Regions from separate parts of the Homo sapiens genome. Here all the other regions are reported to be linked to region 2. The links are microRNA targets in miRTarBase. Many come from high-throughput screens and were not tested one by one. Region 2 holds a microRNA gene; each other region holds the end of a gene's coding sequence.
What was found. Region 2 holds the annotated microRNA hsa-miR-3153 (GGGGAAAGCGAGUAGGGACAUUU, at 1,517-1,539, shown strand). A microRNA usually pairs through its seed, bases 2 to 8, with sites in the 3' UTR of a target mRNA and lowers its output. Matches are read on the target gene's strand: a 7mer-m8 pairs with bases 2 to 8, a 7mer-A1 pairs with bases 2 to 7 and ends in A, and an 8mer does both.

Region 1: miRTarBase lists FIZ1 as a target of hsa-miR-3153. Seed matches in the 3' UTR shown: 7mer-m8 at 3,113-3,119.
Region 3: miRTarBase lists RAB7A as a target of hsa-miR-3153. Seed matches in the 3' UTR shown: 7mer-m8 at 1,225-1,231.
Region 4: the mRNA of ZNF3 is a reported target of hsa-miR-3153. Seed matches in the 3' UTR shown: 7mer-m8 at 3,811-3,817, 7mer-A1 at 3,691-3,697, 7mer-A1 at 2,767-2,773 and 7mer-A1 at 2,734-2,740.
Region 5: miRTarBase lists FBXL19 as a target of hsa-miR-3153. Seed matches in the 3' UTR shown: 7mer-m8 at 932-938.

What each region holds. Positions count from the first base shown.
Region 1 is chr19:55,588,789-55,593,316 of GRCh38, forward strand. It overlaps FIZ1 (FLT3 interacting zinc finger 1), which reads right to left. Exons shown (of 3, transcript NM_032836.3): 3 at 2,588-4,528. The coding sequence ends at 3,662. Among named protein-coding and RNA genes, the nearest start is that of FIZ1, 8.5 kb to the right of the region's middle.
Region 2 is chr9:89,310,758-89,315,285 of GRCh38, forward strand. MIR3153 (microRNA 3153) reads left to right here and starts at 1,468; the gene lies at 1,468-1,549. CKS2 (CDC28 protein kinase regulatory subunit 2) reads left to right here and starts at 438. Exons shown (of 3, transcript NM_001827.3): 1 at 438-594; 2 at 4,413-4,528. The coding sequence starts at 536. It overlaps LOC105376136 (a long non-coding RNA gene), which reads right to left and starts at 45. Exons shown (of 3, transcript XR_930101.4): 1 at 1-45. RefSeq lists enhancers at 1-273, 944-993.
Region 3 is chr3:128,812,635-128,817,162 of GRCh38, forward strand. It overlaps RAB7A (RAB7A, member RAS oncogene family), which reads left to right. Exons shown (of 6, transcript NM_004637.6): 6 at 693-2,164. The coding sequence ends at 788. Among named protein-coding and RNA genes, the nearest start is that of MIR12124, 32 kb to the right of the region's middle. RefSeq lists an enhancer at 512-806.
Region 4 is chr7:100,067,301-100,071,828 of GRCh38, forward strand. ZNF3 (zinc finger protein 3) reads right to left here. Exons shown (of 6, transcript NM_032924.5): 6 at 2,673-4,528. The coding sequence ends at 3,843. Among named protein-coding and RNA genes, the nearest start is that of ZNF3, 12 kb to the right of the region's middle.
Region 5 is chr16:30,946,459-30,950,885 of GRCh38, forward strand. FBXL19 (F-box and leucine rich repeat protein 19) reads left to right here. Exons shown (of 11, transcript NM_001382779.1): 10 at 272-490; 11 at 594-2,325. The coding sequence ends at 772. It overlaps ORAI3 (ORAI calcium release-activated calcium modulator 3), which reads left to right and starts at 2,610. Exons shown (of 2, transcript NM_152288.3): 1 at 2,610-3,059. The coding sequence starts at 2,832. RefSeq lists silencers at 2,036-2,285, 2,656-2,915, 2,956-3,005 and enhancers at 2,929-3,447, 3,736-3,965, 3,966-4,427.

The DNA of each region.
Region 1 (4,528 bases), not on the chromosome of region 2:
TTAGCTCACTGCAACCTCCGTCCCCCTACCCCAGGCTCCAGCGATCCTCCTGTCTCAGCCCCCCGAGTAGCTGGGCCTACAGGCACACGCCACCACACCTGGCTATTTTTTGTATTTTTACTCGAGACGGGGTCTTGCCATGTTGCCCAGGCTGATCTCGAACTCCTGGACTCAAGCAATCCTCCTGCCTTGGCCTTCCAAAGTGCTGGGACTATAGGCGTGAGCCACTGCACCTGGCCTCAATGTTATGTAAATGAAATCATGCTCTGTTTCTGGCTTTTTGGGTCCTGTATCTTTGTAACTTTCATTCATGATACTGTGTTTATCTGCAGCTCATTCATTCTTGTTGCCGTATAGTATTCCACTGCATAATATGCCATCGCTAATTATCCACTGTATTGCTGATGGGCGTTTTGGTTGTCCTGAGTTTGGGGTTGAAAGTATTGCTGCTATGAATGTTTTTGTATGTCTCTGGGTGCAGGGGGACTTGAGTTAGCATTTACGCCTAGCAGTAGAATTCCTGCATCACAGGATATATGTATGTTCAATATTTGAGAATGGCAACCTGTGGGGCATTTAATTTAAGAAACTCAGCAGGGTGCAGTGGCTCACACCTGTAATCCCAGCACTTTGGGAGGCCGAGGCGGGCAGATCGATCACCTGAGGTCAGGAGTTCGAGACCAATCTGACCAACATGGTGAAAGCCCGTCTCTACTAAAAATACAAAAATTAGCTAGGTGTAGTGGTGCACATCTGTAATCCCAGCTACTTGGGAGGCTAAGGCATGAGAATCACTTGAACCCAGGAGGTGGAGTTTGCTGTGAGCCGAGATCACACTATTGCACTCCAGTCTGGGCAACAGAGTGAGCCCCTATCTCAAAAACAAACAAAAAAATCTTAAGGAACTAAAGGGGAGGAAACTTTGATTCTCCTAAACTCCTACTTAAATGTGTCCTCCCTCAGTTTTCTGGTCTTAGTAAGAAATGCCACCACTCAACCATTTATTCCTGATTTCTCCCTTCCCATTACACTCACCCCCAACCAATACACACATGCACACAACCAGTCCTCTGCATTCGTACTCCAGAGTTCATCTCCAACCCACCCATTTCTTTGTTTTGTTTTATTTTATTATGTTTAGTACAGACAGGGTCCCACTATGTTGCCTAGGCTGGTCTCAAACTCCTGAGCTCAAGTGATTCTCCCGCCTCGACCTCCCAAAGTGCTGGGGTTACAGGCGTGATTTCTGTTGGTCACTCTGGTTTAGGCTCCCACAAGTTTCTCCTGGACTGCAGGAGCGCTGCACTCTCCTGACTCTGCGTCCTGCAGCTTCGTTTACACTCAGCAGCCACAGGGATCTTGGTAAGATGCAAGGGTGGTCCCTTCCCTCCTCGATTAACACTTTGCTTCCCATCACCCAGAGAACACAGTCAAACACCTGTTTTGGCTTGCCTGGCTTACTGTGATGTGACGTCTACCCACCTGTTAACCTCATCTCATCCTTCCCTCCCTGAGCTCACTTTCCTCCTGTGTCCATTTGGGCATCCTCCTGGCAGGTCCTTGCTCACCCTTACCCTTCAGGGCTCAGATCAAACGCCACCTCCGCCGAGAAGCCCACATGGACCACCCCATCTAAGGTGGCATAAAAAGTGAGTAAGGTGGCCATTCATTTTCTTACCACCCTTCCCTATTGCCTTCAGAATGCTCAGGACGATCTGAAATTATTTTCTACATTTACTTGATTCCTCTTTTCTCCATACCCGTCGCCTACACGACAGAACATAAACCCCAGGAGGGCCGGGATGATCCCCACAGGGAGTTCCAACGCCTGGCTCAGAATAAGCCTTCAGTACGGGAACACAATGCAGTGTGCAGGAGACAGTCTGAAGGCACCCCCACCCCCAATTCTCTGATGAGCGGGTCCTATTCTGGGGGTCTGGTATAGGGTCCAAGGCAGCATCTAAGAGGCGGGGCCTCTGCTCAGACACGCCTCTAATGAGGCAGTTTGGTTTCCAAGGGGTGTGTCCTATAAGATTGGTGACTTCTAAAGGGCGTGTCTAGTTTCTAGGGGGCGTGTCCGTCTGTTGGAGGTGGATCATGTATTTAAGGGACGGAACTCATTTTGATTGATACTGACTCTAATTGTATTTATTTATGAAACAGAGTCTCGCTCTGTTGCTCAGGCTGGAGTGCAGTGGTGCAATATCGGCTCACTGCAACCTCCACCTCCCAGGTTCAAGAGATCCTCCTGCCTCAGCCTCCCGAGTAGCTGGGATTACAGGCATGTGCCATCACACCCGGCTAATTTTTGTATTTTTAGTAGAAACAGGGTTTCCCCATGTTGGCCAGGCACGGTCTTGAACTCCTGACCTCAGGTTATCTGCCTCGGCCTCCCCAAGTGCTGGGATTACAAGCGTGAGCCACCAAGCCCAGCCTAAACCGACTCTAATTTAAAAGGGCATGTACTATTCAAAGCTTTGAAACTTCTCAGGAGAAAACGAGGACCCGTCTCTATTTAGGGAGTCTGTCCTAAGAGATTCCCCATCCCCCCCGCCTGGAGCCAAGGATCAGAAAATGAGGCATCAGCGACTGACAGGACAAGGTTTATTGGGGGTCCTGGAAACACTGGGGAGAGGGACGAGGGGGCAAGGTCGAGGCTCACAGGGGCACCCCCTAGCCAAATGCCCCCTTCCCCTAGGGATTGGGAGGAAGACAGAGACAGACAAACCAACAGAGATGGAGAGAAAGACCAACGGATGCTACGGAGAGAGGGAAGGAAACCCCAGTGTCCACCACCTCCCACTCAGATGAGTTCACAGGATAAAGAATTGCGTGGACCGGTCCACACGCTACAGGAAAAGAGAGGAGTGTCCGCCCTATTCACTCTAAGGAAGGTGGCAGGCCACAGCCTAGACCAGCCCATTCCATGTGATGGGGGTGTGTGCACATAGATCAGTCCATTCTACTGGGCAAGGGGATTTCAGGCCAGTCTATTCTAGTGTTTGGGGCGGGGAAGATCGTTAGGGTCGATCCATTCCACAGTCGGGGAGGGGGGATTCGAGGGCAGGGGGCATCTACCCTGGTCCCTCTTTCAGCACAGGGAATGAAAAAGGGGAAAGGCAGATTTCGGCTATATCCATTTTCTGGGGTCACCAGTGACTCTGGTGGGTGGCATTTGGAGGGATCTAGGAAAATTCAGGGACATGCTCCCTCCACATTCTCCAGATCAAGGTCGTTAGGAATGATGGCTCTCAGGGAATGGGGCAGTCTTCCCTTGGTGGGGGTGGGTGCCCATCTTTTAGTATTAGGGCTCTCAAGATGAGAGGTACTTGTGGAGACCCATTGCTCACTGCAAAGTCCCCATGTCTTGGGGACTTACGGCTACCCACACTCATTCCAGGGACCTCAGGCTCAGGAGTCTCTCCCTAGATTTGGGCTCCCCTGCCCCAGCTAAGGACCCTGTTTGTTTGTGGTCCCCCAGCTCCGGGGCCTTTGTGGGTTTTTGGTGGCCCCCACCTCTCCAGTCAGGGTCCCCTCATTTCAGGGCCTGCGTCTGGATTTGGATTTGGAGGGCCGGGGCCTCACGCGCAGTCCCGAGGTCCCCTGGTCCAGGCCGAGTCCAGGAGGCTGGGTGGAGGGCAGGGCGCACGCAGCCTGGCAGTCAGTCCATGCCCCGGTGCAGCTTCAGGTGCCTGGAGAGGTTGCTGAGCGTGATGAAGCCCTTGCCGCAGATGTGGCAAGGGAAGGGCCGCTCGGTGCCGTGCAGCAGCCGGTGGCGCTTGAGGTAGCACTCGTGGCGGAAGAACTTGCCGCACTCCAGGCACGGGAACGGCTTCTCGCCAGTGTGCACCAGCACGTGCCGCTCCAGGTCTCGCGGTGAGCGGAACAGCTTCTCGCACTCGGAGCAGCCGAAGATCTTCTTGCCGCGGCCGGAGCCAGACGGGGGTTCCCCGGACGCCGGTTCCCTTTCCCGGGCGGCGGTCGCCGCCTCCTCCCCGCCGCCCTCACCGTGGCTGACCCGCCGGTGCTCCTCCAAGGCGGCCAGCGCCGCGTACAGAGCCCCGCAGTGGCCGCAGCCGTAGGTGGCCGGGCCCGAGTGGGCCTCCAGGTGACTGGCCAGGGCCGCGGCCGACGCAAAGAAGGTCCCGCAGTCGCACTGGTACAGGGTGTCTTCCGAGGGCTCGGCGGCCGCCGCAGGTGCAGGCGCCTCCCCACCGCCCTCGGGGAGCAGCCCCCCGAGCTTGGGCACGCCGCCCCCCGCGGGGCCCAGGAGCAGCCTGCGGTCCGAAGCCAGAGGAGCGTCGCCCGCCTCCGCAGCGGTGCCTTCGCCCGCCGTCTCGGGCCCTGCGCCTGGCCCCGCGGCCCAGGCCTGCGCTGGGGGCGCGCCCGGGCCCTGCAGGTCGTGCGTCAGCTTGTGCCGCTCCAGCAGCGCGGGCGCGTTGAAGTCGCGCTCGCAGCGCGGGCACTTGAAGGGCTTCACGTCGGTGTGCGCCGCCCAGTGGGCCGCCAGCTCGCGGCCGTGGTCGAA
Region 2 (4,528 bases):
GAGCGCCATCACCGTGCAAGGTCGACAGCTTCCGCTCAAAGCCCTGTGGCCCACGCTTCCGGCCTCGACCGACTACGTCATCACCAAACCCCGTGATACCTCACTCCACCTTCAGGTCCTCCGTCCCAACGGTTCCGTGTCCTGGAACTTTCCACGTTCCTGCGCACGCGCTCTGCGGCCCTTAACGTCCCGACTTCGCCCTCCTCTGGCCACGCCCCTGCCCGTTAAGGGCCCTGCCACCCCCGTGACGTACCTATCTTCCCTCGGGCAACCTCGCAACAGATCTCTGATTGGCTGACCCAGGAAGCGGACTTTGCGAGGCGGCGGCGACGATAGGCTGGCAGCCGGCCGACTTCCGCAGAAGGTGATTGGTCGGCGCTGCTGTCCAATCGGCGGCGGGCTGTCGGATTCAAATCCGGATCGTTGGGACTGCGGTCGTTAGTCTCCGGCGAGTTGTTGCCTGGGCTGGACGTGGTTTTGTCTGCTGCGCCCGCTCTTCGCGCTCTCGTTTCATTTTCTGCAGCGCGCCAGCAGGATGGCCCACAAGCAGATCTACTACTCGGACAAGTACTTCGACGAACACTACGAGTACCGGTGGGCGCCTTTCTTAGACCCCGAGCCGGCTCCCTCAGCCGGGGCCCCCGCGGGCGGGGCGACCCAGGCATAGTAGGGTCGGGGGTGGGGGCCGGGGCCTGGGGGGCGGAGCCCGGGGCCGGAGGGCGAGGGCCGGGGTTTGGGGTCGCGGCCACCTGGCGCCCCGCGCAGTCGGACATGGTTGGGTGCCTGGCCGCGCCGGGCCGGTTGGGCCTTTGTTCGGTGTGCGCGGAGGGTGAGGGAAGAGTGCCCACCGGGCCGCATTTAGTACCTGGGTAGGAACCGGCGCAACTTGGGGGTCATGGGGTCCTCGGCGACGCGGAGTGACCATCCCGTCACTTTTTTCTCGGCCGTGGCCGAAGTAATTAGGCCGTTCAGTAGCTGGTCTCAGTTCCAGTTCTTTGAACCAGTCCAGGAAAACCCACCTGGTGCCGTCCTTTTTCCTTTAGCAACCGTGACACACTTTCCCTGTCGCTGACGGGGTGATGCAGCTTTTACTAGTTTGTGGTTTAGAATGGTCAAATGGTCATTTTCATCTGTTAACACAGAGGAACACTTTTCTTTTTCTTGTTTTTGAAGTGAGTGGTATAAGAATAAGCTTTGGAGGCGACCCCCCGAAAAATGAGCTTGATGGGGATTCGAAAATGTTTACTGGGTATGGTGATTTGGGCCATTATAGGTTAGCCGCAGTCATACAATTGAGGGTATTATTAAAGGAGTTTCATTTTAAGGCCGATTAAGAACTTGAGTGGACTTTGGGCATCATTTTCTGCTAGTATACACTGGCCAAATTTTGGGCTTTGAGAAACTTTTGCGTTTGAGTCCTGAAGCACCGTACTAGAACATGGTGGCTGTAATCGATCAGTAAAATTAGACAAATTTTAAATGTCCCTGTCCCCTTCCCCCCAATTAAAGTAGATTGGGGGAAAGCGAGTAGGGACATTTAAAATTTGTTGTCCTTACTGTATGCGGGACACTTCATTTAGGGCGTGGCTTCAGAAAACAGTCAACCCCTTTTTCTTAACTAGGTAGCGACTAGAACGCTGCGTTCTGGGATACTACCAAGATTTAGGGGAGATAAAGCCCATGCCATCGTTGGCCAAATTGTGACCTTGTTTTCTGTCTGCTGCCTTTGTAGGTTAGATTTCTCCGAATGCTATTTAAGGAAGAAAGAACAAAACAGTGGGTGGTTTCTCTTTTTCTCCCCCTCCCTAGTAGCATGGAAGTCTGTTTTCACATGAGGACTACTGAATATTTCTATGGGTAGTAGTAATTGCACCCTTTTGTATTCCTAGCTAGAAAAATAGCATGTTTTTCTGGCTGTAGGTAAATTTCAAGTAGATTGTGTTAACCTTATAGTAATAATAAACTATACTCGTGTAATATGCTGGCAGTGTTCAATTATGCGATGTTAATCAAGAGCCCTATTGAGGATATCCAATAATGAACACAATGTAAACCGTAATAATCTTACTAAAACCTAGAAAATTATTCTGAAACACATCTGGTGCCAAGTGTTTAGGATAAGGATTTAAGGGTCGGTACAAGTTTCTTTTAGGGTATAATATTGAAAATAAATGAAGCTATTTCTCAGACTTCTTTCTGATGGCAGTAGGTCGATTTTTTAGTTTTAATATACTCAAATGATTTGTGTGTGGTAATGTATAGAAGAAAGTTTACATATCTGAAGTGATGTATTTTAATCCAATAAAAATTAGAGCTGGTATTAATTGGCCAAGCCAGTAACCTTTATGAAACAGGATAGTAATTTCCACACATAATTTTAAAGGGGAAACTAGTAATAATATAGCACTAAGGCATGAGTCTAGGGTGGTTTGTATTAATATGTAATGGTGCAGCATGCAATGTAAATTTCAAAGGCTAGTATTTATTTTTCCCAGTGTGCAGTTATCTCTATCTTTCTTTGATTTTTCTTAATTACAAACTTAATTTCCTAGTCCTTTTACGTGAGGGTCTTAATGTTTCTAAGGGCATAACAGTGGGTGCCCCCACCCCCACATCATGGAAGTCTGTTTTCACAAGAGAAAAACTGTTAATTTTTCTGGGCAGCCTTACAAATTAGTAATACTTGCACTATTTTGCATTTCAACTGAAATAAACGTTAGATTTTGGAAATAATTTTCCTTACATGTAGTTAGTTTGAAATCTCTGTGTGGCAAAATACAGGTAGAATCCTCATATGGGGTTGATGCTACTTAAACATTTTTCCTTTATAAAGAAACCCTGATGGAGGAGAGCCTGTTTCCGTGTTTATGGAGAAGGGTGGTAACTTCTATCTAAATAACTTGTTGGTAGATTTATGTACTCTGTAAGTTTGATAGAAAAGGTACAAAAGCACTACATTTCTCTTTGAGAATAATCAACAAGATAGAACGTAGAAATAAGATAACAGATTATTTGAAGTTAGATGTTAAAGCAGCATTTCAAGAATGTGGGTGATAACTGGTAAGAATTACAAAGAATCACTATATAGTTCACTGGAATTGATGAAAACTCTACAAATTATGGTAGTAAGCTATGACTTGGTGGCCTTAAGGCAATCTAACAACACAGTAGAATTTTTCTGAGGCTCACTTTGCCCTGCAAATAAATTGGTACTTAACCACAGACTAAAATTTAAGTTGATGACAGCTGGGTGCTTATAGCGGGTTAGGGATTCAGTTTACTGTGTCTCAGAAAGTGACCAGATTGCACCTCATTCATCCCCAGCCAGCTGACTCACAGACAGATATCTTATACTGGTTAAAAATTTGGGTTGGTGGTTATGGATGGTTCAGTATAAAACTGTTGCTACTACTGCAGGTGGTAAACATGGAGCTGAGAATTGTGACTTTCATAAAGTCCTTTTTATGGTAATTGAGTAAAAATTCTTACTCAATTTGGGGAAAGAGATTTGTTAGGCAAATCTTTGATAGAATGCTTTGGGATACTGTTAATGATACAGATTTGTTTTTGAGAATCTCGTAAGGCTACAATTATACATATTGATGGTTTAACTTTGAAGGTTATTCCATGCTTGCCTAAGAAACTGAACAATGTAAGTTTTGGATATAGGTCAGTAAATTAACTGGAAAACGGTGAGGTTGCACACAATGTGTATGTACAGTTAGTGGTTTTCTGTTTTTAATTTTGAACAAAGTACTTGAAGTATAAAGCAACTTCTGGAGCATACAAGGACTAGTAGCTACTACAAAGCTAGTGTTGAGTAAGAGGAAACCCAAATTAACTGTAACTTAGATTTTTTCGTTACATAAAAGTCTAATAATCTGGGGCAGGGATAACAGCTTTACAGTCAAGGACTAGGCTGGGTCCTTACCTCTTGTTGCTTTACCGTTCTCAATTTACAGTTGCTTCTATGGTCCTAGATTCCTGCTCTGGCTCCCTGATCATATTAATGTGCATTCAACAAGAAGGAGAAAAAGAGTTCAGCATGTTCTTTCCCTTTGAGAACACTTTTCATAATAAGTTACACATTTTCTTATATCTTGTTGGCTTATGATTTGGAGGCTGGTAACCATATGTTCAACTTATATTTTGGGGTTCTCTTCCTGAAGAAGATTAAGGCAACTGGTAAGCATTCTGTGATAAGAGAAAAAGATTAATCCTATGGAAAATGCTTTCTGCTTTTGGATTGTGCACTCTTAGCTCCCTAATTTGAACATAGGCCATCATATCAGAATTAAAGGTAGTAGATTGCAGTTCTCAATATTAAAGCAACAGAGTTCCTTAAGGTACATGTATAAAGCGACAGTTGTAGAAAAGGCACTGGACTAACACTTGGCTGTATCTTGTAACAGGCATGTTATGTTACCCAGAGAACTTTCCAAACAAGTACCTAAAACTCATCTGATGTCTGAAGAGGAGTGGAGGAGACTTGGTGTCCAACAGAGTCTAGGCTGGGTTCATTACATGA
Region 3 (4,528 bases), not on the chromosome of region 2:
TTACTTTAGCAAAGTGCCACTAAAATGACCATAGTCCATGTGCTCTGATCACTTGTCACAGATGGTGATAAAATTCATTCACAGCTTCCTTTCTAGGCCTGCAGCATTTGGGAGACAAAACTCTGCTAAACCTTTGGAAGAAAAAAGAGACCAGAGGCCATTGGTCCCGAAAAGTGGATGGAAGATAGGGAGGTAGAAGGAATGTTACAGGCTGAGAGGGCAGCTCACACTCAGCTCCAGCCACTTCACCTCGTGCACACACTGGCTGAGGGTTGCCAGATGTTTGAGAAAAGCTAGAAATCCAGACCATTGTTAACCATTGGCAACTATAGGGAACATACAGAAAGCATCTGAACTGGATGTGGTAGAGCTCCCAGATCATGATCTGATTGAGAATGTCCATGAACTTCTGTCCTGATTGCTCAGTGCAGACTGCTGCTTCTTCTGGCAAGACTCCTCTCTTCACATTGACCTGGAGTTGTCACAAAATCTGTTTTTCTCTTGCTACTCCCCTGAGCATGGCACCTTCTGCCAGAGCGCTCCCTTAACTGTGTGGGCAGGCTCTGCTTCACAGCTCCCCGCCCACTCTGCCCAAGCAGAAGTGAGCCCCTCCTGGGCAGAAAGTGCCCGCAATGAGGGCTGAAATGTTTCTATTCCCTGAGTAACCAACCTTTCTCTGTTTCCTTGTCCAGGAAACGGAGGTGGAGCTGTACAACGAATTTCCTGAACCTATCAAACTGGACAAGAATGACCGGGCCAAGGCCTCGGCAGAAAGCTGCAGTTGCTGAGGGGGCAGTGAGAGTTGAGCACAGAGTCCTTCACAAACCAAGAACACACGTAGGCCTTCAACACAATTCCCCTCTCCTCTTCCAAACAAAACATACATTGATCTCTCACATCCAGCTGCCAAAAGAAAACCCCATCAAACACAGTTACACCCCACATATCTCTCACACACACACACACACGCACACACACACACACAGATCTGACGTAATCAAACTCCAGCCCTTGCCCGTGATGGCTCCTTGGGGTCTGCCTGCCCACCCACATGAGCCCGCGAGTATGGCAGCAGGACAAGCCAGCGGTGGAAGTCATTCTGATATGGAGTTGGCATTGGAAGCTTATTCTTTTTGTTCACTGGAGAGAGAGAGAACTGTTTACAGTTAATCTGTGTCTAATTATCTGATTTTTTTTATTGGTCTTGTGGTCTTTTTACCCCCCCTTTCCCCTCCCTCCTTGAAGGCTACCCCTTGGGAAGGCTGGTGCCCCATGCCCCATTACAGGCTCACACCCAGTCTGATCAGGCTGAGTTTTGTATGTATCTATCTGTTAATGCTTGTTACTTTTAACTAATCAGATCTTTTTACAGTATCCATTTATTATGTAATGCTTCTTAGAAAAGAATCTTATAGTACATGTTAATATATGCAACCAATTAAAATGTATAAATTAGTGTAAGAAATTCTTGGATTATGTGTTTAAGTCCTGTAATGCAGGCCTGTAAGGTGGAGGGTTGAACCCTGTTTGGATTGCAGAGTGTTACTCAGAATTGGGAAATCCAGCTAGCGGCAGTATTCTGTACAGTAGACACAAGAATTATGTACGCCTTTTATCAAAGACTTAAGAGCCAAAAAGCTTTTCATCTCTCCAGGGGGAAAACTGTCTAGTTCCCTTCTGTGTCTAAATTTTCCAAAACGTTGATTTGCATAATACAGTGGTATGTGCAATGGATAAATTGCCGTTATTTCAAAAATTAAAATTCTCATTTTCTTTCTTTTTTTTCCCCCCTGCTCCACACTTCAAAACTCCCGTTAGATCAGCATTCTACTACAAGAGTGAAAGGAAAACCCTAACAGATCTGTCCTAGTGATTTTACCTTTGTTCTAGAAGGCGCTCCTTTCAGGGTTGTGGTATTCTTAGGTTAGCGGAGCTTTTTCCTCTTTTCCCCACCCATCTCCCCAATATTGCCCATTATTAATTAACCTCTTTCTTTGGTTGGAACCCTGGCAGTTCTGCTCCCTTCCTAGGATCTGCCCCTGCATTGTAGCTTGCTTAACGGAGCACTTCTCCTTTTTCCAAAGGTCTACATTCTAGGGTGTGGGCTGAGTTCTTCTGTAAAGAGATGAACGCAATGCCAATAAAATTGAACAAGAACAATGATCATCTGCCTTTGCCAGAGTCTTTTTTTCCTTCTTCAAGAGCCTTGGCTCAGTAGAGACCACATGAGCTAATCATAGTCAATGCCTTATCAAGCAAGAGAGCCCTCCATAAATGGGCACGTGTGGTGCTTCAAGGCAGAAAGGCCCTCTCATATCTGGTCCTGTAGTGCCTGTCCCTAGTTTTTTTTTGTTTGTTTTTTTTTCCGGGGGCGGGGGTGGGTGTATTTTAATCACATTGTTGGAGGTTGAGGACCATGGATGGAGAACGCATTGTCCCTTTAGGAGAGCAGCCAGAAACTGCTGGGGACTCTGAGCCATGCATATCCTGTAGGTGTAACTGTAACCTAGTCATGTGTTATGTGTTTTATTTTTAGTTGACCTAGTTGCTAACACTTAGATGTGTAATTCTGCATTTGTCACAGGAGAGGAAGATTTGGCAGCAGAGGCCCTGTATTCCAACATATGTAAGCCCCCACCTGGAATGGAATAGTTGCCACTTAGAAGCAATTTTATTAAAATAGTAGTAGTTCAGGTCGTGAGTCACTTTAGGTTTTGCAGAAGTGCCTCATTGAGTTAGATCTTGAATTCTACTTTGCTACACTTTTCTACATTTCCACTTCTCAGGCTCCTCAGCTGGTTTCTTTCCTCGTGGCTCCTCTTGGCATGTACTTTATGTGTTAAAAATAGCATAGTTTAGAAGTTCAGATGCTGCACAATGTGAGATTATCCACAGTGCAATTCCACCCTGGCTGGGTGGCTTAAATCTTCTCTGGTCCTATATTTTGCTTGGGCCTCATCAGGTGTTTGTCCTCTAGAGGAGCAGAGTTCTCTCCAGCTTGGGGCCCAGTGACTGGGCCACAGGGTGTGGACCCTTGTGTGATGCTCACCTCTGCAAATCAGGCATCTATTCCTCTGATTGTGTTCCACTGGTCTTGACCTTGTATGTGACATTAAAATGGACCTTGACTTCTGACCTGCTTGACCTTCATCCTAAAACTGATGATCATCCTGATATTAACCTGCTTTAGCTTGAGATGAATGTAATCTTTAATTGACTGATTTCAACCATTGTCCTTATCATAACTTACCCTAATTTTAATGGCTTTGGCTTTGAACTGGCTTTGACTTTACCCTAAACACGTTCACTGCTGAATGACCTTGACTCTGACCCACCTCCTGACCCTAATCATCACCTGACTTTGAAGTTAACATGGAACCCTACCATGACAATAGGTCTTACTCTCTGACCTGGGACTAATTAGTCTCATGTCCCATCAGCCTGATGGCTGAGCTTGGTGTCATATTTTAACCCTAAATTGTATAATGTTCATCTAAGGGATTCAGCTTAACCACAATAGGGAGCCATGGCTGAGACTGAGCTCTGCATCAACACAGTGCCTTTTTCTTTTTTTTATTTTTTTATTTTATTTTATTTATTTATTTATTTATTTTTGATCATTCTTGGGTGTTTCTCAGAGGGGGATTTGGCAGGGTCATAGGACAATAGTGGAGGGAAGGTCAGCAGATAAACAAGTGAACAAAGGTCTCTGGTTTTCCTAGGCAGAGGACCCTGCGGCCTTCCGCAGCATTTGTGTCCCTGGGTACTTGAGATTAGGGAGTGGTGATGACTCTTAATGCTCATTAAGAGTCATCACAGTGCCTTTTTCTATATTCCTATTTAGATTCAGCATAAGCATGTGTTTTCTCTCAAAAGAGGGGAACTTGTCATTTTGCTGGAATAAGCAGTAAGGATTTACTTTTGTGAAGAATATCTGGGACTGAGTTTGTCTGCAGTACTATGGATTGTTTGGGTTCATTCATATTTGCCTTGAGGTGAGAATGAGAGATGAGTGTGTTGCTGGGTTTGCATCCATCTCAGTTTGCGCTAACAAATATTCAGAAGTTATTTTTGGCGAGGCACACTGGCTCACACCTGTAATCCCAGCACTTTGGGAGGTCAAGGTGGGTGGATCACCTGAGGCCAGGAGTTTGAGACCAGCCTGGGCAACATGGCAAAACCCCATCTCTAATAAAAATACAAAATGTAGGCGGGCGTGGTTGTGGGCACCTGTAGCCTCAGCTACTTGGGAGGCTGAGGCAGGAGAATCGCTTGAACCTGGAAGACAGAGGTTGCAATGAGCCAAGATTGCGCCACTGCACTCCAGCCTGGGCAACAGAGTGAGACTCCATCTCACACACACACACACACACACACACACACACAAAAAGTTTTGGAAAGGACGTCTGGGAATGAGTTTGTTGTACTAGTATGTACTTGTTTCAGTAGTACTCCTTCCTCTGATCCCAGCTTATTCTGCCTGCATGTGAGTGTGTTGCTGTGCCGACTGTCATCTCCCTCAATAAGC
Region 4 (4,528 bases), not on the chromosome of region 2:
AGGTGTTTGGTTCTCAGATCTCGTGTAAGAAATTCATTTTAACACACGCTGAGTCTGCTGACACCCTTTCTCTGCTCATCATTTTAGCAGCTCTACCTCATTTACTGTAGGCCATCATTCCTCGCCAAGTATTGGATTTTTTTCTTTTCAGAGAGACAGGGGTCTCATTATATTGCCTAGGCTAGTTTCCAACTCCTGGGCTCAAGCAGTCCTCCCATCTCAGCTTCCTGAGTAGCTGGGACTACAGATGTGTGCCACCACGCCCAGCTAATTTTTATTTTTGTAGAGACTGGGTCTCACTATGTTGCCCAGGCTGGGCTTGAACTCCTGAGTTCAAGCGATTCTCCTGCCTTACCCTCCCAGAGTGCTGAGATTACAGGCGTGAGCCACTGCACCCAGCTGATTAATACATGAAAACCACTCGGAAAAGAGCCAGGCAACGCTGACACAGAGTATATGCCATGTATCAGCTACTGCTACCATCACTTGCAAATCCCATCTCCTCTACAATCTCAACTCTGAAAACAGTATCATTCCACTCCATCTTTACTGAACCTGCCCAGGCTTGATGCTGGTTAGATGGAGGAGGATGAGGAGTATAATCAAAGAAAACTTACAAAATTTTGATCCTGACAGGTTTACAGAAATTTTAAGAGGGGGCAATAAATGGGAAAGTGGGATCTGGTTTGAAACATACTATGAAACTGTAGAAAGTCCAGGTGTAACTGCTCTGCAGTCCACTGGAGACCCACGACTGAGGCTTGGGAGAGCCATCAGGACATGGGCAGGTTTTTTTCTTCTTCTTCGAGACAGTCTCGCTCTGTCACCCAGGCTGGAGTGCAGCAGCATTATCTCAGCTCACTGCAACCTCTGCCTCCTGGGTTCAAGTGATTCTCCTGCCTCAGCCTCCCGAGTAGCTGGGATTACAGGCATGTGCCACCAAGCCTAATTTTTCTATTTTTAGTAGAGACAGAGTTTTACCGTGTTGGCCAGGCTAGTCTCAAACTCTCACCTCGTGATCCGCCCGCCTTGGCCTCCCAAAGTGCTGGGATTACAGCCATGAGAACACAGATTTAAAATTTATTTGCATAGGCTGGGCGTAGTGGCACATGCTTGTAATCCCAGCACTTTCGGAGGCCGAGGCAGGCAGATCATGAGGTCAGGAGTTCAAGACCAGCCTGGCCAACATGGTGAAATCCCGTTGTCTATTAAAAATACAAAAGTTAGCTGGGCGTGGTGGTGGGCGCCTGTAATCTCAGATACTAGTGAGGCTGAGGTTGCAGTGAGCCGAGATTGGTCCACTGCACTCCAGCCTGGGCAAGAGCAAGACTCCATCTCAAAAAAAAAAAATGGCAATCTATAAAGTAATTTCATTTCATTTTTGAGACTGTCTTGCTCTGTTATCGTGTGGTGGTGCAATCACAGGGGCTCACTGCAGGCTCAACTTCCTAGGCTCAAGCAGTCCTCTCACCTCAGCCTCCCGAGTAGCTGGGACCACAAGTGTGCACCACCACACCCAGCTAATTTTTTTTTTGAGATGGAGTCTCACTCTGTTGCCCAGGCTGGAGTACAATGGAGCAATCTTGGTTCACCGCAACCACTGCCACCTGCATTTAAGCGATTCTCCTCCCTCAGTCTCCTGAGTAGCTGGGATTACAGGCACGTGCCACCACACCTGGCTGATATATATATATAATTTTTTTTTTTTTAGGAGAGAGAGCATTTCACCATGTTGGTCAGGCTGGTCTCGAACTCCTGACCTTGTGATCCGCCCACCTCGGCCTCCCAAAGTGCTAGGATTACAACTGTGAGCCACTGCGCTCAGCCCTAATTTTTTTTTTTTAATTTTGTTGTAGAGATAGGGTCTTGCCACGTTGCCTAGGCTGGTCTGAAGAGATTCTACTGCCTTGGCCTCCCTAAGTGTTGGGATTATAAGCATGAGCCACTGTACCTAGCCTATAAAGAAATTTTAGGGCCAGGCATGGTGGCTCACGCCTATAATCCCAGCACTTTGAGGCTGAGGCCGGCAGATTGCTAGAGCTCAGTTTAAGACCAGCCTGGGCAACATGGTGAAACCCCATCTCTACTAAAAATACAAAAATTAGCTGGGGCGTGGTGGTGCACACCTGTAGTCCCAGCTACTCTAGAGACTGAGGCACGGGAAGTGCTTGAACCCGGGAGGCAGAGGCAGCAGTGAGCCAAGATGGTGCCACTGCATTCCTGCCTGAGCAACAGTGCTAGACTCTGTCTCAAAAAAAAAAAAAAAAAAAAAATTAAGTCAACTTTCAAATTCCATTTATAGTTACCAACATGTCTTGTCTTTTTTTTTTGAGATGGAGTTTCGCTTTTCTTGCCCAGGCTGGAGTTCAATGGCGCGATCTCAGCTCACCACAACCTGCGCCTCCCGGGTTCAAGTAGTTCTCCTGGCTCAGCCTCCTGAGTAGCTAGGATTATAGGCATGTGCCACCATGCCCGGCTAATTTTGTGTTTTTAGTAGAGACGGGGTTTCTCCATGTTGGTCAGGCTGGTCTAGAACTCCAGACCTCAGGTGATCTGCCTGCCTTGGCCTCCCAGAGTGCTGGGATTACAGGCATGAGCCACTGCACCCAGCCAACATGTCTTGTTTTAACTGAAATATATGGTCCAAACATTGCACAAAACCACACTCAATCTCTTCTGAAAAACTATTCTGTTTAATAGTGCACTTCATTTATGCTACAGGATGAGCAGGGTTGGGAAAACACAATGGAAGGTCATCCCGTCGGTTGGGAAAACTCGGGGAGTGCCATCCTCACCCAGCAACGAGCTCTGCTACCAGGCTCAGGCACAGCCTGCCTTCTCTGGGCTTCGTTTTTTTGTTTTTTTGTTTTTTTTTTCTCCCTTTTGGGCTTTGCTCTTTCTCTGCATTAATCTTCAGCTGCTGAAGAGTCAGAGGTGGAGGCAGGAGTGGTCTGGCTCCTGGGGCTGGGTGTCAGAGGTGAGAGGGCAGGGCAAGCAGGCCAAGTGAGCTCCTTGAAAGCATCCTTACCCAGGCATTTAGAGAAAATCATTTTCATCATTGGAGTGGGAAGAGGACAAGAGAGGACAGCAATCAGAGGCCAACGCTAAGTGCTTCTGACCCTCTCCCTCACAGCCGGTTACTAGCTGTTTGGACAGATTTGCCCATTCAGCCCCAGGACAACTGGGGGGGATGGCAGGGGGTCTGCTGGCAATATCACCAGGTTTCTCTTGGAAACATGGTCTGGCTGCTCCAAGAGCCCTAAAGGACACCATCATCACAGATGATGATTCTGGAATCTCTTCTACCCTCAATAAAATAATCCCTCAATGCCAAATTTCCATAATTAACGAAATCATGAAACAAAACAGCATGTTTCTTACCGAAACTTAAAGCTGGACTAGGAACAGTAGCTTTGAAATAGTCTCCCTTTACCCTCCCTAGCAAATAACAGGACCCAGAGCGTCCTTTCCACTGCTGTCTGTGCTGACTACGCGGACTCCAACTAAAGGAATCCATCGAATTCTGTCCCGACTGTGCTTCCATCCCCACCTTGGAAAGGTTCCTCTGCTGTGAGAAAAACAGTTTAGTGCAAACTCCTTTCCTAAATGGGGTAACTGGTCCCAGAGCTGCTTTCTATTCCCAGCACGCCATCCACTTGCCTTGACGCTTTCTAAGGCTGGTGTGATTTCTGGGAAAATTCAACGATTTGCCCCATCTGCCCCATTCTCTAAAATGAAAAGTCTGAGTTGAAAGGGACACATCCTAAGCTGTTGAGATTTATAGGGTAAGGCAAGAGCTCTTGAGACTCAGGGAAAGTGAGGAAAATGGGTGTGTGGCTCTTTCACGTGGACTCTCTGATATTTAACTCGGTCGTAACTCTGAGGGAGCTTTTGCTCATGCCGATCCCATTCAAAGGCTTCTCTCCAGTGTGAATTCTCTGATGGCGAACAAGAGCCGAGCTGTACCTGAAGGCTTTCCCACACTCACTACATTCATAGGGGTTCTCCCCGGTGTGGATTCTTTGATGCTGAATAAGGCCTGAACTGTAGGTAAACTTTCCTCCACATTCCATACATTCGTAGGGCTTCTCTCCAGTGTGGATTCTCTGGTGCTGATAGAGGTGTGAGCTCTGGCTGAAGGCTTTCCCACATTCATTACATTCATAGGGTTTTTCTCCAGTGTGGATTCTCTGATGGTGAATAAGGGTTGAGCTCCTGCTGAAGGCCTTCCCACATTCATTGCAGGCGTAGGGTTTCTCACCAGTGTGGATTCTCTGATGGTGGGTGAGGGTGGAGCTCCAGCTGAAGGTCTTCCCACACTCATTACATTCATAGGGTTTCTCCCCCGTGTGGATCCTCCGATGCAGAATGAGGGCAGAGCTACAGCTGAAGGTTTTCCCACAATCACTACATTCATAAGGTTTTTCCCCAGTGTGGATTCTCTGATGCTGAATAAGGTGTGAGCTCTGGCTGAAGGCCTTCCCACACTCATTACATTCATAGGGCTTTTCCCCAGTGTGGATTCTCT
Region 5 (4,427 bases), not on the chromosome of region 2:
CTTCCCAAAGTGCTAGGATTACAGGCATGAGCCACCACGCCTGGCAGAATATTGTAGTCTCAAATACAATAATCATGGAAGGCCTCCGAGGAGGTGATGTGAGGAGTGGACAGATGAGGTCAGGCCATGAGGGTGTTTTTGAGAAGAGCAAGCCACAGAGTGCACCAGGTCACTCACTTATGTGGGAAGCAGGTGGAGGGCAGATGGTCTGGATACCTGGGCGCAGGGATGGGAGTGGCCAGGAGTGCTGACCTCTCATCTGGCTGCCCAGGGCAAACAGAGAGCCGTGGTCGGCTGCAGGGGGTGGCAGAACTGCGTCTGGCAGGTTTGGAGCTGACAGATGCCTCCCTGCGTCTCCTGCTGCGTCACGCACCCCAGCTGAGCGCCCTGGACCTGAGCCACTGCGCCCACGTCGGGGACCCCAGTGTTCACCTCCTCACGGCCCCCACGTCCCCACTCCGCGAGACCCTGGTGCACCTCAATCTTGCTGGTAAGCACGGTCCCCCATCCGTCCTGCCAGCCTGTGGATCCCCACGGCCAGTGCCAACCCCTTGCTCACCTGCCTGGTCTCAGCTCCACTGCCCCATCCCCAGGTTGCCACCGCCTAACGGACCACTGCCTCCCGCTGTTCCGCCGCTGCCCTCGTCTACGCCGCCTAGACCTGCGCTCCTGCCGCCAGCTCTCACCCGAAGCTTGTGCCCGGCTGGCAGCTGCCGGGCCCCCTGGCCCCTTCCGCTGCCCTGAGGAGAAGCTGCTTCTCAAGGACAGCTAGTTGGGCGCCCCCCACCCTCCCCCGGACTCGACAGGAGCCTGGACCTCCGGCTTCATTTCACCCCTGCTGGGAGGCCAGGTTCCCACCTCACCACCCTGGGATTCCTGAGTGTCAGTGACTTGGGATTCCCACCCAGGGACTCAAGCCAGCCACCCCCTTCTTTCCCCCCTGCACTGATATCTCTGGGGGTTTCTCCTTCCTATGTCCTGCCCCTGCTACCTGCTTCATTGTCCATCCCCTGGGGGAGTGGGTCAGAGGTACTGGAGGGTGCTGAGCCGAAGGGACGGTGGGAGGGGGGTTATGGTGCAAGTGTTGGGGGGGAGAATGGGGAAAGGACACACACAGGATATGGGAGCCAGGGGCTGGGGGAGGTGGAAGGGGCGGGGGGCGGGGCAGACAGCAGACCACCAAGGGTTCAGGGAACAAAGACCAGTTACTTGGAGTGGGGGGTGGGGGTGGGGCCACAAAAGGAAAACCGGAGGAGCAATTGGGGATCCAGGTGTCAGAGGTAGGGGAACCAGGGGCAAGCTGGGGCTGAGCTGGAGGTGGGGATGAGAGCAGGTGTGGGGACAGCAATACCCCCTTGGGGGTCACCTCTCTGCTTCCCCCCTCCCCAGGCTTCAGTTCCTTCCCCCTGACCCTGACTCCTTGAACGTCACTGAAAACGGCAGCTATTGCAAGGAGTGGGGGCCGCGGGCAGCCGCTCTTCAGCTCGCGGCCCAGGGGAGTGGCGAGGGGCGCCCCAACCCCCTGCCCGCCTCTCCGCACAATACTTGAACATTCATCTGTACTGAAGTGTTACTTGAACCGGGGGAATCTCGGACCTGGGGGAGCCGGGGTGTGAGGGGACTGGACCAGCTTGGACTGAGACCTGAGACCGGGCCGGTGGGCGCCCATTTGGGACTGCGCCACCCCCAGGCTTGTTCTTGTTTTACTGTATTGAGCGGCGGCACCCGCCGGACCCGCATTATGGCTGGGGGCGCCAGCCCAAGAATGGGGACCATGGGACTCCTCCAGCCTGGCTCTTCCCACTCTTTCATCGTCATGGAAACTTGTATCCCATTTGCCCAGGGAACTGCCACTCCTGGTTGCCATGGAAATAGCAGCCAACGGACACCTCCCGATGCCAGTGCTAAGGCTGGAAATGGCCCCCTCTTAGTTGCCATGGGAACCTAGTAACAGACTCTGCTGGCCCTCCTTCCCTGCCCCTTCCTCGAGCGCGGGGTGGGGCTTCGGGACCCCGGGGATGAGCCGGGCCAGGTCCCGCCCCTCCGCGCAGGCCTCCGGGGGGCCGGGGCTTACCATGTAGGGGAGGGGAGATCTATCCACATACCTCAGGTAACAGGGAGGTGCGCGGGTGGGGGGAGGGCTGGGCGGACCAAAGGCCGGAGGGGTGGGGCCTGGGGATAGCGAGAGGCTTGAGAATGGGGCCGCTTGGGGGAGGGAAGAGGCAGCCCGGCGAGGGGCAAGCGGGGGACCCAGCCGGGCTGGGCCCCTGGGCCCCGGGTCTGTACAATACGGTTTGCTATAAAACTCAAAATCTTCCAGCCGGGGCTGCGGAGTTCGTGTGTGTATCTGCGGGGTCCCTACCTACAGATGAGTGGGCTCACCTCTCCTGGACTCATTTTGGGAGGGATTTGGAAGTGTGGACACCTGGGGTGTCCAGCTGTACCTTGGAGGGGGCTGGGGTTGGCGTGCACCTCGGTGGGGTCCGGGCGCTTGGATAACGTTCTTGGTGGGTAGGGGTCGCGGGGAATCTCTGCGGGCCCGGGACTGCGGGGACTTGGTCCCCGGCTCCACCCCATCATGTGGCTAGCCCCGGCTCCGCCTCTGTCCCAGTTCCTGTTTTGGCCTCCGCTGTCCCGCTCCGGCTCCTGGGGCTCCCCGCAGACGCTGCTTTTCTTGCTCCACTGGGGGTGCCTCTTCCTGGGCGCCCGCCGCCTGCATCCTGCTCGTCCTGTCTGGGAATGGGGCCGCCCCCGGGCTTGGGCCGGCCCGGCTGGGGCCCCCGAGGCGCTTCCGCCCCGTAGTGACCGCCTGGTGCCGCCCCCCCCCCAGGATGAAGGGCGGCGAGGGGGACGCGGGCGAGCAGGCCCCGCTGAACCCTGAGGGCGAGAGCCCTGCAGGCTCGGCCACGTACCGGGAGTTCGTGCACCGCGGCTACCTGGACCTCATGGGGGCCAGTCAGCACTCGCTGCGGGCGCTCAGCTGGCGCCGCCTCTACCTCAGCCGGGCCAAGCTCAAAGCTTCCAGCCGCACGTCTGCCTTGCTCTCGGGCTTCGCCATGGTGAGGGGCCGGGAGGGGTCACACCCGGTGGGGCAGAGCAAGTGGGGGGCACAGGTCGGGGGGGGGGCGAAGTAAACAGGTCCCAAGGGAGACAGGTTAAAGGGGGCTTTCGTCAAAGGGGGAAGGAACAAGGTCCCGCGGGACTGAGCAAGTCCCTTCTTACGGATGTGTGTGTACAGGGGACCCCAGGAGACGGGGCCACCGGAGGACACGAAAGTCCTAAAGGTGTCGTAGTGGGAGTGGGGTGAACAAATCGCTGGTGGGGTTGACTGCAACAGTGAGGCAGAGTGGTCCAGATGGAGCCTGTACCTGGCAGAAGTGGTTCCTAAGTCCCAGTGCCAGCTTCAAAGGCAGGTCAGCTGGGTGGGGGCTGCATCAACAGGTGGGGGGCTCGAGATGGATTAGCTGGGTGGAAGGGTCACCCAGCTGAAGGTGGGCCCGTCCCAGGGAAGGTGGCCACTCTCCAGCGGGCCCAAGGGGTGCTAGTGTCAACCAGGAAAACTGACAAGAGATCATGCCCGGGAGGGAACCGCTGGGGAAGGAGGCTGATGAGGAAACTGATAAGCGAGTCTCAAGCTGATAAACCCCAGGTGCAGGAGGACGGTGTTGGCTAACGGTCTGCCCCAGCAGTGGCCTCACAGGAAGTGGGATGGAGGGAGGTCCCAGGGTGAGGATCAGCAGACACAGTCCTGGCTCCTCCCTGCTTGTGGCCAGCTGTGTGACCCTGGACAGGCCTCCACCCCGCTTGCAAGCCAGTGGGAAACTGAGATCATGGAGGGTGCGCCCTCTGTAGCCAGCCAAGTAACCGCCCCAGGGTGAGCCAGGCATGTCAGAGCAGGTCACGTACCAAGGATGGCTCAGACTAGCCTGCTAATTGGACAGGTGTGGAAAGTAAAAGCCTTGCCTCTGGGCAGGAGCGAATGAACTGGGACCCAGGGTTGCTGCTCTGTTAGTCTGGGGTTGCCCCACCATCACCCCAGGAAAAAGGAGAAAGTGAGCTGCAGGAGGTACTTTGGGGAACGCACTCCTGTGGGGGTGGATATCAGAGGCGGTTGGGGTGGGGACCATGGCGCTAGGGGATCTGGGCTAGTCCCTGCCCTGTCTGTGCCACAACCTCCATATTTGAACAATGACAGGGAAACTCTCTAACCCTAAGGGTCATCATAAGCCTATGGTCTTCTATGTGGGGTCCCAGAATCCACAGACCAGCTTACCTTTCATGATGGGGGCATCACCTAGGGACAGGATGTTGGCTCCCCTTCATCTGCACAGCCTGCAGAGGGAAGGGAGCAGCCACCCAAGCTGAGGGAGGTCAACCCCATGGTCCAGCCTGTTCCCAAGGAGACAATCCCTCCACGGCAGAATATG